Homo sapiens: one gene and its partners. The protein of the gene in region 1 purifies or fractionates together with the protein of each later gene. This does not show direct contact. Each region holds a gene or a part of one and is shown in the gene's direction. Other genes may lie near its edges.

Evidence for each region. Proteins that work in one complex are often made in the same cells at the same time.
Region 2: the proteins of OGN (region 1) and ASB7 purify together in Homo sapiens (affinity purification with mass spectrometry; 3 studies listed by BioGRID and IntAct, with this or other methods). This does not show direct contact.
Region 3: the proteins of OGN (region 1) and CNPY3 purify together in Homo sapiens (affinity purification with mass spectrometry; 3 studies listed by BioGRID and IntAct, with this or other methods). This does not show direct contact.

Annotation. Positions count from the first base shown.
Region 1 is NC_000009.12:92,401,579-92,409,245, reverse strand, and holds the start of OGN (mimecan isoform 2 precursor), read left to right. Parts: upstream 1-4,750; intron 4,751-5,481; exon of another isoform or gene 5,482-5,763; 5' UTR 5,764-5,838; coding exon 5,839-6,012; intron 6,013-7,667. UniProt on the Homo sapiens protein: Induces bone formation in conjunction with TGF-beta-1 or TGF-beta-2.
Region 2 is NC_000015.10:100,647,589-100,652,238, forward strand, and holds the end of ASB7 (ankyrin repeat and SOCS box protein 7), read left to right. Parts: intron 1-734; coding exon 735-874; 3' UTR 875-4,113; downstream 4,114-4,650. UniProt on the Homo sapiens protein: Probable substrate-recognition component of a SCF-like ECS (Elongin-Cullin-SOCS-box protein) E3 ubiquitin-protein ligase complex which mediates the ubiquitination and subsequent proteasomal degradation of target proteins.
Region 3 is NC_000006.12:42,925,194-42,932,516, forward strand, and holds the start of CNPY3 (protein canopy homolog 3 isoform 1 precursor), read left to right. Parts: upstream 1-4,286; 5' UTR 4,287-4,377; coding exon 4,378-4,528; intron 4,529-4,653; exon of another isoform or gene 4,654-4,718; intron 4,719-7,323. Other genes in the region: PTCRA (pre T-cell antigen receptor alpha isoform 1 precursor), read left to right, coding at 23-489; CNPY3-GNMT (Glycine N-methyltransferase-like isoform 1 precursor), read left to right, coding at 4,378-4,528. UniProt on the Homo sapiens protein: Toll-like receptor (TLR)-specific co-chaperone for HSP90B1. Required for proper TLR folding, except that of TLR3, and hence controls TLR exit from the endoplasmic reticulum. Consequently, required for both innate and adaptive immune responses.

The DNA of each region.
Region 1 (7,667 bases):
TCTGAAGTTTCTTATATGTTCCAATTTCCTAAATTGATATAACTATTCCAAGTTATAAATCTGCCTAGGTGTAAATATCATAACATCATGGACACATCTTGCATCACTTTACTTGTTTAGGTTATGAATTCACTATACAGAGATTTATGTACTACTGAGAAAAACTAAATTAACAAATAAAATACAATTTTACCATGAGCTCTTCCTTACATTGAGTCATAATTCTCTCCATATAAATTTTACCCTTTAGTCTGGGAAGTAAAATACATGGGTTCTCATATTTCTTGTTTGAACAAACAATTAGGCTTCAAGCATAAGTATGAGATTTAAGACGGAGATCCAAACCACAGACTTTCCACAAAATCCAGAATGCTGGATTAAAAAGGGTCTATGTGTATCTAGTAACTCAGCAGTTATCAATACGAATGATTTTGCTTCCCCAACCCCCACCCATCAGTGGACAGCTGGCAATGTCTGGAGACATTTTTGGTCATCACAAAGTAGGGGTGGGGGTGGGGTGCAACTACTAGCATCTAGTGGGTAGAAGGCAGAGGTGCTGCTAAACATCCTAAAGTGCACACAGGACAGCCCCCACAACAGAGAATTATCAGGTCCAAAATGTCAGTAGTGCAGAGGCTGAGGAACTCTGTAGTAACCCGATTCAATCGATAAAAGTTCAATCGATAAAAAAACTGTGGCCCAAAACGTTAAAGAACTTGCCAAGGTCAGGGGAAGGTTCATGAAGAATCAAAACTAGAACTCAGCTGGGTGCAATGGCTCACACCTGTAATCCCAGTACTTTGGGAGGCCGAGGCGGGCAAATCACGAGATCAAGAGATCGAGACCATCCTGGCTAACATGGTGAAACCCTGTCTCTACTGACAACATAAAAATTAGCTGGGCGTGGTGGCGCATGCCTGTAGTCCCAGCTACTCAGGAGGCTGAGGCAGAAGAATTGCTTAAACCCGGGAGGCGGAGGTTGCAGTGAGCTGAGATCGCACCACTGCACTCCAGCCTGGAGACAGAGCAAGACTCCGTCTCAAAAACAAACAAACAAACAAAAACTAGAACTCAGGTGTTTTGACTCCTAAACCAAACTATTTCCTACAAAGTTAGAGAATGAAGATGAAGATGGGGGAAAGACTCTTCTGGTTTGTAGCATTCATTGAAAGCTAATCCACTTGGAGGTCATATGGTCTCTATCAGAATTAAGCCACTCCCCAAAAATACTTTTTCCCTGGAAGCTCTTGTTTCCAAAATTCCATTCCATTCAACACATTTTTTTGGTTGCCAACAGACAAATGGTACACTTTTGAGGAAATAAAACCCCTATAAGGCACCAAAGATAATACAATAGGGTCACCTAAAAGAACTCCACAGAGGCCAAGGTGGATCACTTTAGGTCAAAAGTTCGAGACCAGCCTGGGTAACATAAGAGGACCCCGTCTCTACAATTCTTTTAATTTTTTTAATTAGCCAGGCATGGTGGTGCATGCCTGTAGTCCCAGCTACTCAGAAGGTTGAAGTGGGAGGATCATTTGGGCCCACAAAGTTGAGGCTGCAGAGAGTCATGATCGTGCCACTGCACTCCAGCTTGGGTGACAGAGCAAGACCTTGCCTTCATAAAAAGAATTCCACAAAGAAGACTCTTTCATCTTTGGATACAATGCCTGCTCTTGAGCATGAGACAGCTTTCATCTTTTACTCCTGTAGAGTAAAAGCTAAATAGCTTTCTATCAGCATTCAATTCTTTCTGGAATAGAAAATCACCTCAGTTTCAAGCATTTTATATTGAGTACTGTGTAGTAAAGATTTTGGCTTTGCCTAAAGAGAGGTCTGGGCTTTGCCTTGGCTTCTGAGAGGTGATCTATGTTATTTCTGATAGGAGTGTTTTTGTTTAGGGTGAGATCAGCCACACCTGATAGTCTTGAGGTAGAGGTGGCTATGCCAGGAAGACCAACCACGTGATGTAGGATAAGGGATTTGGGTTATGTAGTATCAGTGGACCAGGAGGCTGAATTCAATCAATCAATCAATCAAACCTATTAATAAAGCCCCAATAAAAACTCTGAACACTGAGAATAAGCTTGCCTGGTTGGCAATACCCCACATACACTGCCACATATCAACGTAAGGCAATGCATCCAGAGAACAATGGAAGTTTCAAGTCTGGAGCCTTCTAGACACTGCCCCTACGCATCTCCCCCTTTGGCTGATTTTAGGGTGTATCCTTTTTCTATATAAACCATAATCATGAGTATAATGGTCTTCAGTGAGTTCTGAGAGTTCTTCTAGGGAATTATCAAATGTAATAAGAGTGGTTCTAGGAATCTCCTGAAATTGCTGTTGGTATCAGAAGTGCGGGTAATACCCATCTTGCCAGAAGACTATTTCCTCCTCTAGCTGTGAAGAAGCAGGCTGCAATGTTGTGAGCTGCCCTTTTGAGGAAGTCACATGGCAAGGAACTGAGGGAGGCCGTCAGTCAACAGCTAGCAAGAAACTTACGTCCACAGTTTCACATTCTGCAAGGAACTGAATGCTGTCAACAACCACATGGGCTTAGAACTGGATCATTCCCTACTCAACCCCTGAAGTGAGGCTGCAGTGCCAGATGCACTTCAAATGCAGATCCTGAAGCAGACCATCAAGCAAAGACACGCCAAATTCCTGACCCACAGAAACTGTGAGATAATAAATGTGTGTTATTTTAACTAAGCCATTCCTTTGTGGTAGTTTTTTACACAGTAATAGATAACCACTACAATAGATGAACAGTGGTATTCTTCAGCAATGCAACATTAGAGGAATGTTTCTAAAATGCAAACAGGATCATATTTAAGCCATCACTGGCTTAAAAATCTCTACATGGTCTCTCACTGACTACAGACTAAAGCCCAAATACTTTAGCAGGATATAAAATACTTTCTTTAATCCAACCTCTATTCCCCCTGTCTAGTCGCATCTCTTAATATGGTCCATCCCCCTGACTTCTTCTCTCTCTCCCTCCAAGCTCCAGCAGTATGCAAAACAAATTATAAATTTTCTGAATGATCTACCCCCATCCCCTCCCTAAGGGGAGCACGTGATGATCCCCTTGCCTAGAATACCTCATCACCTGCGCTTACCCTCCTCTCCTATCCTCTCTATAGAAGTCAGTTTGGGTGCAGTCTCCTTGACTCCCAGTCAGTTTGTGGCTTCTCCCAGGTTATCACAGAACTCTGCATATTTCTGTGTAGCAAGCCCTACCATGGATTCTAGTTGCTTGTTTGCTGCTTTTCCTGCTGACTTAGAGGCTATAAATCTTCCTTGAGGGAAGAAACTGAAGTTTGCTTATCTGAGCTTACGTGTCTGAAGTCCTGGCACAGAATTGGCGCTCAATAAACTTTTATTAAATGAGTGAATGCTAATAACATTGTATTCACTGGTCATAACTTTTCAAGGAAAGTTGTTCTTCACAAAATAATTTTCTGTAGTACAAAGCATCAAAGTGTACCATTAATGAAACTATGAATCTCTAAGATTCTCTAAATTTGGACATATGGTATCTATCCAGCTTACTTCTCAATATCTTGTTAACTTGCCACACAATACAAAACAAATCAATGTCTGTTGTTTCATTATTATATATTTCAAAGTATTTAAAAAAGTTTTACTGTATCCTTGAAGCCATAAAACCAACAATTTATATCAACTCAAGCCAGACAATATCACAATTAAATTTAAGATAATTCACATTCAAATAAAAACTTCAGTGCTCAAGTCTTAGTTTATTTAAGCTTTGATTTGAAAGGTTCTAAAACAATTTTGTCTAGAAAAGAAAACAAATTGTTATTCTTTCATTTTCTATTTTAATAAAATATATATCCATATTTGTTAAATTTTTAGCTTAAAGGAGAAAAGTTAATTTGATTGGTAAAAGCACCAAGGAGGAATTTTTTAAAAGTGACTCTTTAAAAAAATCTTCAAAGTTGCTTGTATGGTATCTACAATGCCACTTTAATTTTTAAAAGCCAATTTCAATATTAAAGTAATTTTATAAAGTTTCCTTCATTCAGCAAACAAAAGTATCTTTTACTATCAACCTCAAAAACTATAAATCAAATTTACTTTTAAAAAGCTAATTTTTATGCATCAGTTTTTCTTATATGTAACTAAAATAAAGGGGAGAAAAAATCCAAATGACAAAACTATCAAATAATTTGTGCTAAAACTAATTTTTACACTGGAAAAATATATTACACTGGCTATATATTAATTATGGTATTAGGGCAATATTTTTAATCCTCATAAAATTAACAACATGGACTATGTTGTCATTTGGTGTCCTATTTCATTCAAAAAGCAGATTGTTTGATCTCCTGGGAAATCACCAAAATGAAAAGGATGACTTTAAAACTATATCATTTTTCATAAACTAATATTCACCAAAACATGAATGTTTATTACACAATAATAAAATCACACAAGTTTATAGTCAAATTAGTTGAAGCAGACTGAGTGCAGCAGTTACAACAAATAACTTAAGCACAGTTCTCTAGTACAACACACTGCATTTCACCCTAGAGAAAGAATGCTGGCAAAGATCTCTACCACATGGAAACTGTTCTTAAAGCTGCTGGGCCCTGAAATTTTACTCAGCAGTTTGAAATCAAGACATAGCTTTTCTCATTCACCCTCCCACTTGGGGCTAATGCACAGACATGAACATCTATTGAGGAAAACCACAAAAAACTTCAAAACAGCTACAACGGTAGGCTTACTTTTCATATATTATTTTAAATATTGTTTGTTAAAGTGCGACTGACTCATCTAATAGTCTTAATAAATGTAAAGGCCATCTCTGGTTTAAGTTTCAGTTACCTCAATTAATTTTTAAGAAGTACTTATGTATATCATCGCATAAATTTAACATCCACGCAGGCAAGAATAGGGTGCTGCAGAAGTCACAAATCCATTATCTTCTTCATTTTCAACCTCTGGATTTTTGACAAACTGGCATCTATAATGCAGCATCAGCAACTCTTGAGTGATTCTGTTTGAAGTTACTTAAGAAAAAGTCTGAAATGTGTACCCACCAGAGAAAATCCATTGATGAGCCTAAAGGAATCCTTTCTATTACATTCCTCAAAGTTCTTTGATTAAAGTTCGGTATTTCCTCTAGCCTGCAATACTATTCTTTCAGTTTTCTTAGCTTAAATTAAAAATACAATACTATTAACTAAAAATTATGATCACCTATTAAAATTACAAAACTAAGAAAATTAAAAACGTATGGCTTTTCCTATATTCTGTACCACCTAAAGGTGTTAATGACTACTTTTCATAATGTTAAATTTAAGTTTTAAAACTTTTCTTGGAACTTGTTTCTGTTCATACCAATATAAATCAAGAGTTCTTATAAAGTAGCTAAGTGGAAATATGATATTTTTAACTCACATGAGACAGGATCTTGGGACTTTATTTTAACTATTTATACTACAGGTATCCTAAGAATATTTCAATTAAATATTAGTATGTCTGCTGAAGGCACTTAATTATTAAGAAACTTAAAATTATCAATCTTTCTTGAATTTCTGATAGAGAAGTAAAACTATTTTCCAAAACTATTTTTCAGAATGTTCACTGATACATAAAAACTGCTAGCATCTAATTAAAGATCACTAAGGGTTAAATACTGTTCTCTGGCCCTTACTGCGCACACCCTGCCAAAACATCCTCTAAGCTTTTAAATATTGCTTCGATGGTCTGAATTTTTATTTCCAGGGAAAAAGAGAGTTTTGTCCCACAGTCAGCAGGCCACTAGTTTATTAACTTCCAGTCACCTTGATTTTTGCTAAAATGAAGACTCTGCAGTCTACACTTCTCCTGTTACTGCTTGTGCCTCTGATAAAGCCAGCACCACCAACCCAGCAGGACTCACGCATTATCTATGATTATGGAACAGATAATTTTGAAGAATCCATATTTAGCCAAGATTATGAGGATAAATACCTGGATGGAAAAAATATTAAGGTACTTTATTTCTATTCTAAATTTAGCTTCTAAAATACTGCCCATTTAAATGCATGTTTTTGCTTTTCCTGAATGTGTCTGATAAGGTAAGGGGAAGGGAAAATCACTTTAAATGATTCAAACGAATTCATAATAATTGTCCCTAAGATTGTATTTTTAGAGTATGTATGCTTTCCAAATTAATAAATGGTATCTATGGTAACCAAACAGTATCTATAGTAACCAAAAAATAAAACTTAAAGAAAACTAGACTTTAAGATGATCCCTCACCAGTTGCAATTTATATATTAAGTAATGTTACACAATGCCCTATACTTGCAATGTTGTGTTGCCTCAAAAATAAATTAGCGGAAATGTGTATTTGGAGAAATAAAGATGAATTATCAGCTTAAGGTTATTATTATAGAAAACAATTTGAAGAAAATACATAGAAGAGTACTGGTTATTTTGATATCAATAGCATTCCACAATAATTTATATATGCCATCTACATACAGTACCAAAAACTGAAAACCTAGTCAATATAGGACTTTCTTTTTAAATCAATTTTAACAGTTTAGACCCTCTATCAATTGGTACCAAGTAACTGTAACTGTCTTTGAGTTAACACTGCAAGGGTGACGTTATACCACATCATTCATTCCCCACCTTTATGGGCAAACTAATTACTTGTGGTTTTCTTGGCACACAGAAATGAATGCTGGGTAAGGAAAAAGTTAATACAGCACTTAAGTATCTGTTGCCCACTATGTATGACACATACACATACACACTGGAAAATGAGAAATTCAGCCAAATATATAACAATACTGATTGTTTCAGAAGTTCTTCTCCACTATAAATTGGAGGATAAAGACTTATAAGATTGACCAGTTATAATTGCTACTTTCTCTTTTCTTTTTTGCAGGGGTACACAATGAGCAAATGTTAACACCACAGTTTCTTTCTTTCAGTTAATGCTTTTAATATGATAGCATTATTTTTGCCCATCACTAAGACACAAAGGATAGGTATTACTAATTATAGCTTCAAGTTAAAGAAAAAAAAGTCCCATCATAACATAGGCTATTGGCTCACTTGGATGATTTGAATCTATTAAGATTCCCTGATCCCTAAAGAGTTTAGAGATTATTTTTCTCTCTGCTTCTTCTCTTTACAGGGCTTTAGAAGTTTCTCTATCTTAATATAAATGCAGGGTCTAAGATATTTGTGGAGTGGAGTAGAATTCAACAGGACTTGATGTGCAAACACAGAGTAGAGGGAGGAAGTTCAACCACCACACAGATGGGAGAATGAAGGTGAAGGGCAGAGTCAGGAGTCAAGACCGAGACTAAAATGGAACATGCTTACAAAGGACAGAAAGAATAGGACACCACATAATACACTGTAATCTAATGGCAGAAAACGTACTCTCCAAGAACAGGAAAGACAGGATCTAAATTGTATCTACTCCAATTTCCCCAGAATTAATGGCCTACCCCAGTGGCCCAAGCAGGGTAGGTAAGGTAAGCTGGAATAAAAGGGATCCAAGAGCCAGGGCTTAATGGAGGGATATAGGTAATTAAAGGGTCACCCCAAGAAGAGACCTAAAGACCTTAATTGGTAGTTTATACTTGTGACATGGCTGGAGCTCTAGTCTTACTCAAAATGGTAGA
Region 2 (4,650 bases), on another chromosome or scaffold:
TGAGATATAACGGGTTTTTATTGGCAAGTGATCAGGGTGTGGAAGCTTGAAGCGATGTAGATTCAGAATACCTTGAGGCGCTTTTTCACACCCCCTTCTGCTGCACTCCTCAACTGTCAGCCTTACAACCAAGGTTCTGCTGTGTTCAGAATCACGGAAAACAGGTGAGCAGATCTGGAAAGCTTGTTTGGAAAGCTCCACAGAGACCGTGGTGGGTGTCCGGGCTCCAGTGTCCTAGACCCAGAGCTGAAAGGGAGGCTCACAATAGGGGACATCTCTTTCAGTCCCCACACTTTTCAGATTGAGAAGCCAAGGCTCAGAGGAATGATTGGCTCACAGTGGCTCACCCAGCGTGAGAGAGACCTAGTCAGGACGAGAACCAGAATTTTCCTGATTTATAACAGAAAGGATATGAGGCTTAGAATCAAAACTGTTTTTGGTCTCAGTTGAAAGCCTTAATTGGTTGTCTGATATTAAGCAACTTGTTTACATCTGATACTCAGTTTTCTTATTGGTAAAATGGAGTTGAAAATATCCACCATCCCACGGTTGTGAAAAGGATCAAATAAGGCATCGCATGAAGGTCCTAGGACACTTTGAGTTGGTATCTTTCCGGTCCTTTGCATGTCAAGTCCATAGAGAGAACTTCCAGGGAAATGAACAGTTCTTTTCAAAAGTGCCTTAAATATTGTGCTTTGTGGCTTTGTAACATTTTCTTTTTTCTGTCTTTTTAGGACAGCCCAGAAACTTGCAGGACCTGTGCCGAATTAAAATTCGACAATGTATAGGCCTTCAAAACCTAAAGCTACTTGATGAACTACCAATTGCCAAGGTCATGAAAGACTACTTAAAACACAAATTTGATGATATCTGATATGCCAGAACTGTGAGCAAGATTAGGAGTTCTATTCTAGATACTTAAAAGGCTTTTTGCCTTGCACAAAGTATATCCTATGCAATTTCTGATTTGCTGTGAAATCAGAAAGCAGGTATACACTTTTGGGTTTTCTGTTTGTTTGGTTGGTTTTCATTGTAGGGGAGGGATTTTTTATATATATATAAAAACACACACCACATGCTTGAAGGTCTTAATTTGGTTTCTTGGTCCAAGTTTAAGAGGTCCAAGCTTTGTATACAATACTGCATTTAGAAAAATTGTCTTTTCTTAAATGACACAAGCAGGTTTAGAGTGGAGAATTTACCCTTTCCAAATTTATGGTTCCTTGGTAAGCACGGTATTCTAAACCAGCAGAGCACTTGTTAACGTTTGGAGGCACAGTTTCACCCAGGGCGACCCTGGGTTCTTTTGGAAAATGCCCTAAGAAATGTTTGAAGTAACGCTGTCACCTCATTCATTTTTAATGAGTACAAACTGGCCGTTTCAAACTGTTCTTTTTCCTAATTAATGTAGCTTTCGGATGACATAAATCCAGTATCTCTGCTTATGACATAAATCCAGTACCTCTGCTTTTCTTTTGCTGTGCTCTTGTTTTTAACTTATTTTTTTTTTAACAACTGTAGTACACTACCCTGAGACACTGCATCTCGATTTCTATCTCTAGTTAGAGTTGTACTTTTAAAAAAATTAACGGGAAAGAAAATAACTTTGTGAAGCCAGTGTATTCTGTTTTTAAAACTGTGCCTGCAGTGCAATACTCCTTCTGGTGTATTTTATCCATTATTTCACTTGCTGGTCGTCATTTCACAGCCAGCTTTGACATGCCCGTGAGGACAGGAGCCGCCGCTTCAGTTGTCACTGCAGAGCCATCGTATGTCAGTTGCAATTTCCATCTGAAGCTATGTCTTTGACTTCACTTTAAGCAGAAAATTTTGTACCCTGGTGGTCGAGTCTTCCCTTAAAAATTGTTAAATCATTTGGCTTTAATGGTTCAATAATTTGGGGTGGCTTCATGGTGTTTCTTTTCTTCCCAGTTTAAAAAAAAAACTTTTTAAGCGTAAAATCTTTAAGGGGTACACATTTATAAGTCTGGCTAATTTCTAATATGCTAATTAAACATTTCCCATTTTAAGGTTATATACAGTGAGGCTCTTCAGGACAATTATTTTCTGGGTTGATTGGGCATATGTTTGCCGTGTAAACACGGATATGATAAAGTGTCAGTAACAATGGAAAAGGTCCCAGAGGCATTAGGCATCTAAGAGGATGCCCTCAGAAACGTATTCTGGCTTGATTTGTGTTATTAACTTCAGAAGAACCTTTTCAAATGTCCCAGTATCGTTCTTAGTGCTTTGGGAAAAAATATTTAACACACTGTTAATAAATTTGTTATCAGAAGTTTACAAGACGAAGGGCTTCTCTCGTCTGAATTTCTAGATTTAAGTCATGAAGTGTAAAACTGTTTCACCCAGAAGTGTAACTAAGCAGAACTAGGAGTTTTCTCTGGCTTCACCTTTTTCAGAGCCAGCAGTGCTGTTTTCTCAAGCACAGCGTTTGCTCTTAGACTCTGATCTGCTTGTGCCTAAGCATTGCACAGGTTTCCGAAGACGGGCAGCTTCAGAGAAGAGGATTATTCGGGAGATTGCTGGTGTGGCCCATAGACTCTTTGGCATAGACTCTTTCGCAGGCAGCCACTCTGAGTGTGGCCAGTTCTATAACCATCCCCAAACTAGCTGGAGCCTGATGGATAGGAACGGGTAGTCTGTCCTCTTCCCCATAAAAATGTTCCAAAAAGTTATCTCCAGAGAGAGTCCCTTATGAAGACAGTTGCCAAGCTGTATTCTCATTCTTTAAACCAATACCCAGGTCAGGGCTAGTTCACACTAGCACTGTTAGGGACATGGTGTGGCTAGAAATGAATTGAGTGTGACTTCTCCCTACAACCCCAGGCCCAGGGATAGGAGGAGGCAGAGGGGTGCCTGGAGTTTCTGCACTCTCATCAGTGATGTTCATGTTACACTTGCACAAGGGCTGATTTCCACGTATGTGTGTGTTAATTTATTCACTTAGTTTCAAAAGATTTTCTCTCCCCAGCCATTCAGAGGTTTCCAAACTAAGCCACTGAGTTTGAGTCAGGGAATTCCACGTAAAAAGATCAGATTAAGGTAAATTCTTTGTTCTGTATTGCTGCTGTGACTTCAGAAAAAAAAAATTATGAGAGCTCTTCCTGGAATTTTGAAATTTCTATTTAATGAAGAAGTGTATAATTCCATTATTTATTGTTTGAGGTTTGATTTATCTGGAAGCTTAAAAAGAATGTTTTATTTTTGTTGTTAATAAAATCCCAATCACATTTCACAATAACTAAAATGTCTCCAGGTGGGTTACTGGTAGATGATAGTGGTGACACCTGCAGGTCTGCATTTGAATTGGATTCACAGAGAAGCATTCCATGGTCACATAATGAATAGGGAGAACAGATATTTTCAGAAAAATCAACCGATTGTTTTTTCCAGAAACAGAACAGAAAATGTTCAGAATATTTTCAAATTTGTCAGATTCTTTTATGTTTCCTTTGAAATTTATTATTTAAGCCTATTACTAAACCTTTATAAAAATATATTTGGCAAATACACCAAAGAAACCAGCTTACAAAAGATTATGATCATTAATGAACTGCAAACCTCATCTTTCGAAAACAAGGTTTTGTGTTTTTTTTTTTTTGTAAATATTTGTGTTTATAAATGTACAGCAGAGTAAGAGTGTTTTTTAGATTATTTAATTCCCATATTTCTAAACTATTTACTACACAGTAATCCATGCCTGTTAGTTTGGAGGACTTGACTGTCTCATTTTTTAATTCATTGTCAGTCATGCTTGGAACAGCATTTCCACTAGAGAATCCAGCGTTCTGGCAGTAGCAAGAGTACACATCTGGAGCATGAGGGACTCTAGCATGACTCGTCAGATGCACACCCCAAGAGACAAGAATGTGTAGTTTAATGACCGGCGTGGACCATACGAAATTGAGATTCTAACTTTCCTGCAGGAGTGCTCATGAGCCCAGAATGTGATTGGGATAAGGCCATTTGCCCACAAATTTAGCTTTCATGTAACTCCTAGTGTGTTATATCATAATGTATTTTGTTCTTCCTTTTTAATGTAAGTTTTGCTTTGGGTCAATTTGAATTAAAAAAATCAAATCTGATTTAAAACATGTTGGAGTTGTATTTTATTTCCAGTCTACCTTAAGTTTTTAATATGTCCAGCTATTTGGTGAAAATAAATAAAACTCTATCCTTCCTTCATCAGCATTTTAGATCGCTGGGAGTTGTTTAAGAATATGATGATGTGGAAAACAATACCACTCTCCATTGTCACCAGATAAGCCATTTCTTACCCTCCTTTAATTTGTTCAATGCATTCTGCAAATACCCACCAACAAAAGATGATCACAGTGTTGAGTGTATCGACCCAGCACTGGGCCTTCTTGGGCCGTAATCGCCACCTGCCCCGTGCGTGCCACACCTTGACTCACGACAGGGTTTAGACCACAGCGCTTCTAAACGTAGGACAGCATGCAGTCAAAGCAATGCATCTGACGGAGTTACCCTGCAGGAGATGAAGCAAAACAACTTTGATTTCACATTTCCTCTATAAAACATAAGCACAGCTTGATTCAGGAGAGACCCGAAGTGAATGTGGATGATGGTGTGGCACTAAGAGAAAGGGAAGAGGGACTGCTTAGCACC
Region 3 (7,323 bases), on another chromosome or scaffold:
CCGCCGTTCTCTCCTGGGGTAGGGGGCTGCGGGCTCCTGCGGGCTCCTGAGCGGTTCCTCCTCGCAGGGACACCGGGTGGGGCGCTGTGGCTGGGGGTCCTGCGGCTGCTGCTCTTCAAGCTGCTGCTGTTTGACCTGCTCCTGACCTGCAGCTGCCTGTGCGACCCCGCGGGCCCGCTGCCTTCCCCCGCAACCACCACCCGCCTGCGAGCCCTCGGCTCCCATCGACTGCACCCGGCCACGGAGACTGGGGGACGAGAGGCCACCAGCTCACCCAGACCCCAGCCTCGGGACCGCCGCTGGGGTGACACCCCTCCGGGTCGGAAGCCCGGGAGCCCAGTATGGGGGGAAGGGTCTTACCTCAGCAGTTACCCCACTTGCCCAGCACAGGCCTGGTGCTCAAGATCTGCCCTCAGGGCTCCTTCCTCCAGTCTTGGAGCATTTTTTGCAGGTGACCTGCCTCCTCCTCTGCAGGCTGGAGCTGCCTGAGGGCAGGGCTCTACCTCCCCTGCGTCACACTGTGTGAGGCTGTGTCTCTGCCATCCAAAAGGGGGCCCCTTGAGAATGGTGATCCACCCAGTTACAGGGGCATTTAGGGAGCAGATGACTGAGAACATTAAAAAAGAACTTAAATGACACAGCAAATGAAAAATATTTGAATTCATGTCTATCCTGGGAGGAAGGAATTTGGCAGAGTTAGAAGTAGGAAAAATCCAGGAAAGCTCCCTTGAGGAAGAGGGCTTCCTGAGACAGAACTTGGGAACTGCAGAGTGGGACTGGTGGCTGGGAAGGCGGCTGTCTCCTCCCCCAACAGCAAGCGGGGAGGCCCCCTCTTCTCCTCACCCTGGCCCAACCTCTGTGAGAGGTCAGGGCAGAGAGCCCAGGAACCCAGGAAGGTGGGTGGTGGGTCTGATGTGAACTCTCGTACAGAGGTGAACAGGGCCAGGGTTTCTGGGGAACAGGATCGTTTTCAATAACAAGAGTATGAGATATTAATTCCAAACTTACAGTTTATTAATCAATTAAGAGTCATTATTCATTTGACAAATATTCTTTAAGTATCAACCCTGAGCCAGGTACTAAAGAGGTTTGGCTTTTTTGGTCTGGTTGTTACATAAAGAAGATTCTTGTATTGATCAAGTATGAGGCTTCCACAGTAGAGCATAACGTGTGCGTCCCCTGCTTGCCCAGCGCTGGCAGGAAATCCAGACTTTCCCAAGGGTTCTCTGCTAGTAATCACTCCAAGAGACTCTGGGTGCTGTCATGTAAATCCACCTGTCCCTTGGGCCCCATAGGATAGTCTGCTGGATCAACTTTAGTCTTCCTTCCCCCAGGGAGGGGATGGGGAACTATGCCCCAGCACCCCAACACATGGTTTCAAGGACACCCTCAGCTCCCCTGAGCCTCTGTGCTCTCTCAGCTACTGTTCCATAAAAACTCTCACTGCCTCCTCCACTGCTCATCTCTCACCAGCCTGAAAGGAGATTCTCCCACTTGTTTTGGGGATTCTTGGGTGCTGGTGGCTGGGGTGGGAGGGTCCCATAGCTTCTACGGATGAATCTGTCCACCATCCCCACAAGGCATGTTCCTTCTCTGACACACAGACTGAGGGAGGGTGTGGGCAGGGGCCCAACTATAGCCTCAGACTTTCTCTGGCCACTATCCCTTCCTAGCTGTCCGGCCAGATGCTGAGCCCAGGCTTCTCAATCTCCACTGTCAGGCTGGCTTAATCTTATTTCCCAGGAGGGCTTCTGAGCCGAGGTGAATCAAGGGCCATGGCCAAGCTCTGAGCCTACCCAAGTATTTTATTTTATTTTATTTTATATTTTATTTTATTATTTTATTTTTTGAGATAGGGTCTCACTCTGTCCCCCAGGGTGGAGTGCAGTGGTGCGATCTCAACTCTCTGCAATCTCTGTCTCCCAGGTTCCAGCAATTCTCCCACCTCAGCCTCTCAAGTAGCTGGGACTACAGGCACACGCCACCATGCCTGGCTCATTTTTGTATTTTTTGGTAGAGACAGGGTTTCACCACATTGGCCAGGCTGGTCTTGAACTTCTGACCTCAAGTGATCCGCCTGCCTTGGCCTCCCGAAGTGCTGGAATTATAAGTGTGAGCCACTGTGCCCAGCTTGAGCCAACCTAAGTCTTATCAAGCCTAGAAAACATGGAGGACCTTAGGAGGGTGTCCTGATCTTGTACACTGTGGAATTCCACATGCCACAGCCCCTGCCTATCCAAAGTGCTTTGTTACCAACACAGTTTTGGACAAGAAACTAAAGTCAGAAAGTGGCAAGGCCTGGGCCTCAGTGCTCTGAAGTCTTCATAAAATAGCATAAATATCCAACCTCTAGGAAGGAAACAAGAAGGTATCAGGGAACAGGGTTTTATGGCCAATTTGCAGACAACTTCCCAGAGAAGCAACTTTGGTCTGTGTGCGTCTGTAGGACACTGAGTTCAGGGGCAGCCTAAAGAAGACCAAGAGTGCTCCTCTTTATTTTTATTTGTTTATTTTTATTTTTTGAGACGGAGTCTCGCTCTGTCGCCAGGCTGGAGTGCAGTGGCGCGATCTCGGCTCACTGCAACCTCCACCTCCAGGGTTCAAGCAATTCTCCCGCCTCAGCCTCCCAAGTAGCTGGGACTACAGGCACCCACCACCACGGCTATTTTTTTTTGTATTTTTAGTAGAGACAGGGTTTCACCATATTGGCCAGGCTGGTCTCGAATTCCTGACCTTGTGATCTGCCCGCCTTGGCCTCCCAAAGTGCTGGAAATACAGGCATGAACCATCGCGCCCGGCATTTATTATTTTTGAGATGGAGTCTTGCCCTGTCGCCCAGGCTGGAGTGCAATGGCGTGATCTCGGCTCACTGCAACCTCCATCTCCCAGGTTCAAGCAATTCTCCTGCCTCCACCTCCCGAGTAGCTGGGATTACAGGCGTGTGCCACCACGCCCGGCTAACTTTTTGTATCTTTAGTAGAGATGGGGTTTCAGCATCTTGGCCAGGCTGGTCTTGAACTCCTGACCTCGTGATCCACCTACCTCGGCCTTCCAAAGTGCTGGAATTATAGGCGTGAGCCACCAAGCCCGGCCTCCTCTTTATTTTTTATTTTGATTTATTTATTTTTGAGATGGGGGGGGTGTCTCGCTATGTTGACCAGGCTGGTCTCGAACTCCTGGCCTCAAGCAGTTCTCCCTTCTTGGCCTCCCAAAGTGCTGGGATTACAGACATTAGCCACGGCGCCTGGCCTTTTTCTTCTTCTTCTTCTTTGTTGAGACAGGGTCTCAATCTGTTGCCCAGGCTGGTCTCCAACTCCTGGGCTCAGGTGATCCTTCCGCCTCGGCCTCCCAAAGTGCTGGGATTACAGGCGTGAGCCATTAAGTGTTCCCCTTAATGACACAGCAGATGAGAGTTTTACTGAGTATCTCCTTGTGCCAGGCACCCTGTTGTTGCTGGGGAAGCGGAAGGGAGAGACAATCGTTAATCGGCTAAATTTCTGCCTTCTGAGAGCTCAGAATCAAGAAATAAATAATAGGGCAGTAAAAGGGGCTGGGATTACATACAAAAAGAAAATTAATGCCTGAACTTTTTACAATCTGCTCGATAAGCTTTAATTCTATTAACCTATTTGAGCTTCCCAACAACAGGCAAGCTCCCACAGCAGCTAGGAGGATCACTTTGTCGTCATACAAATAGAAACAGGCTCAGAGAGGAAGTCATTTGTTCTAGTTCTCACTAGGACAAATCTACTGGCTACTAAAAAAGTGTGAAGGCTGGGGACAGTTTGAGTCGTCCTGCTTGCACCTTAAGCGCCTACAAGAGTGCCCGGCTATAACAACCACAATACCAATAATAAAATTTAAAAACAGATGTTCAGTAAGGACTTGCGGCATTAGGACCCCAGGAGGGAAGTGACGTTCGAGGAGGCGGAGAAAGCCGCGAAGACGGCCTTCCCCACATCTTCCAGCACCTGCGCGCCTGAATCCGTCCCACCCAGGCCCAGACGCAGGCTTCTTCTCGGGTCTTGGTCCTGCATCCTCTCTCTCCCAGAGCCTCCGTTAGGGGGTGGGAAAGGACTTTGCCATAGGTCGCTGAGGCCACCATCTGCTCTCTTACTGGCCAAGGGCGTAAAAAGATAGTCTTCCCATTAGCTAGAGAGCAAACCCCAGAAAGCCTATTGGCTGCGCCGTCCGCGGGCCTTGGTCCGCTTTGAAGGCGGGCTGCGGCTGCGAGAGGAGGGCGGGCGGGAGGCTAGCTGTTGTCGTGGTTGCTCGGAGGCACGTGTGCAGTCCCGGAAGCGGCGAGGGGAAACTGCTCCGCGCGCGCCGCGGGAGGAGGAACCGCCCGGTCCTTTAGGGTCCGGGCCCGGCCGGGCCATGGATTCAATGCCTGAGCCCGCGTCCCGCTGTCTTCTGCTTCTTCCCTTGCTGCTGCTGCTGCTGCTGCTGCTGCCGGCCCCGGAGCTGGGCCCGAGCCAGGCCGGAGCTGAGGAGAACGACTGGGTTCGCCTGCCCAGCAAATGCGAAGGTGAGGAGGCGGGGCCCGTGGGGCGTATCCTGCCGGAGGGGCTGGCTCCAGCGGTGGTGCTTGCGGAGCAGCGTCGGGGGTTGCAAGGTTCCGAGCTCTGCAGGGTGTCTTCCTTCCTTGAACAGGCTTGCGCCGGGACGCTGCGGCGGACGAGAGATCTGGTCCCGGTACCCCTGGAGTTCACACATTGGTAGAAACAAGCAATGATAATTCAGAGTAGTAGATGCCATGATAGGGGAGGTACAGAGCTTCCTTTTGGGGGCCGGACGAGGAGCATCTGGTCTAGCCTGGAGTGGGGGAGGGGGTGGGCGAAGGCTGTGTGCAGAGGGGAGTCAAAGAGGGCTTCATACAGGAAGCACGAAGAGGCATTAGGAGTTAGCCGGATGAAGAGAAGTGGAAAGAGAGGGGCCCACTCAGGAAACTACAGAGGCAGAGGCCTGCCGGCTGAGAAGCTAAGAACGAGTTTGAGGAACTGAAAAGCTCCAGATGACTCATCTTGGGGGAAAAAAACCTAAGACTTTCCCCTTTTGCCCTCACTGCAACCCAATCTGTGTAGTTGTCTGTTGCACCCACTAACAACTCCTCGAAGGCAGGAATTTTTGTCTTAGATACGTATTCACACAGTGTCTGGTAGGCACTCAATAAATGTTTTGAGAATACAGATGATTAAATGGGAGACTGTGGGTGTGTGTGAGGAGGAGGATCTGGATCTGAGGAGCCCTTTGGGGGAACAATAGAGCCTATGGGGAACTTGAAAGAAGATTTTAGGACTTTGGAGAAAAGGTGAGTCCCAAAGACATAGGCGTTGAGGAACTACAGAGAGAGAGAGAGAGGGAGCTACCAGCGAGCCAGGACTATAAAGGACCTATTTCTTTTTCCTCAACTCCGTCCCTTAGTTTTCTCCTCAGACCTTACAGTCATGCCTGCCTTCCTAGCCCCGTAACCCCAGGGCCCCCAGAAAGTTGGCTGTGAATCTCTCATCTGAATTGAAAGCCTACATCAGGCCAGATGTTCCCTAAACACTGGAAAGTGGGTTTGGGGTAAGTTTCGGACACATAATCCTTCCATTAGAGAGATTAAAAGGATGCTTTAGAGATAAGCCGACTTCACTGGTAGGGCACCCAGTATGAGTTCAAGCCTGTGCCTTCCCCCGTACATTCTTTTCTTTTTTTCCTTTTTTTTTTTTATGAGACTGTCTGGCTCTGTTGCCCAGGCTGGAGTGCAGTGGCGAGATCTCGGCTTATTGCAACCTCTGCCTCCTAGGTTCAAACGATTTTCCTGTCTCAGCCTCCTGAGTAGCTGGGATTACAGGCGCATGCCACCATGCCCAGCTAATTTTTGTGTTTTTAGTAGAGATGGGATTTCATCATATTGGTCAGGCTGGTCTTGAACTCCTGACCTCAAGTGATCCACCTGCCTTGGGCTCCCACAGTGCTGGGCTTATAGGCGTGAGCCTCTGCTCCTGGCCGCCCTTTCACTTTTCGCTCTTCCTCTAGTCCTGATAGCTTTTTTTTTTTTTTTTGAGATGGAGTTTCGCTCTTATTGCCCAGGCTGGAATGCAGTGGCGCGATCTTGGCTCACCGCAACCTCCAGTGACCCACCCTCCTCGGCCTTACAAAGTATTGGGATTACAGGCATGAGCCACCGTGCCTGGCCTTTTTTTTTTTTTTGAGACGGAGTCTTGCTCTGCCCAGTCTGGAGTGCAGTGGTGCGACCTTGACTCGCTGCAACCTCCGTCCCCCAGGTTCAAGGATTCTTCTACCTCAGCCTCCCGAGTAGGTGGGACTACAGGTGTGTGCCACCACTCCCGGCTATTTTTAGTAGAGACGGGTTTTCACCATGTTGGCCAGGCTGGTCTTGAACTCCTGAACTCGGGTGATCCACCCACCTTAGCCTCCCAAAGTGCTGGGATTACAGGCGTGAGCCACTGCACCCAGCCCAGCTAACTGATAGCCTTTCAGCGTTTCGCTTCCTCTTCTCTTTCTTTTCTGTCTTATTATTATTATTATTATTTTTTTTTGAGACGGAGTCTTGCTCTGTTGCCCAGGCTGGAGTGCAATGGCACAACCTCGGCTCACTGCAACCTCTGCCTCCAGGGTTCAAGTGATTCTCCTGCCTCAACCTCCTGAATAGCTGGGATTACAGGCACCTGCCATCATGCCCGGGTAATTTTTGTATTTTTGTAGAGACTGGGTTTCACCATGTTGGCCAGGTTGGTCTTGAACTCCTGACCTCAGGTGATCCTCCCACCTCAGCCTTCCAAATTGCTGGGATTACAGGCATGAGCCTCCGTGCCCAGCCTGTATTCTGTCTTATTCTGATATCAAAGAGCCCATACTCTCCCTCTTATTATTCTCATAGCCTAAGGAGCTCACATTTATTCTCCTTAGGCAACATTCACAGACTCACGGAAGCATAGAGATGCCCAGGATCTCTATATCTCTATATCTAGAGATCATTCTAGTCTACCCTCATTTGGTAACTGATGAAGATTAATTGAAAAGGGATTTGCAGTCACAGGATGGCTTGGCAAACTCCAACCGTTAGGTTCATCTTAATAGTATATTTGTTTGTATTATTATTACACCTTTGTTATTAAATGCTGACTGTGTCTAGCCCACCAAGCCTGCCTCCTGGCTCAGTAGCCTGAGTGGAACAGGCCTCGGCACAGAGGAAGGAGAACCTGCCCGGAAAAAAAGAGTGGGTGGATGTCAGTGAGGGTCTGGTGTCTGTGCCGTGAATCTCCTGTGAGTCTGGTTCTGGGTGGGATCCGCAGAGGAGGTCTTGAAGAGGTA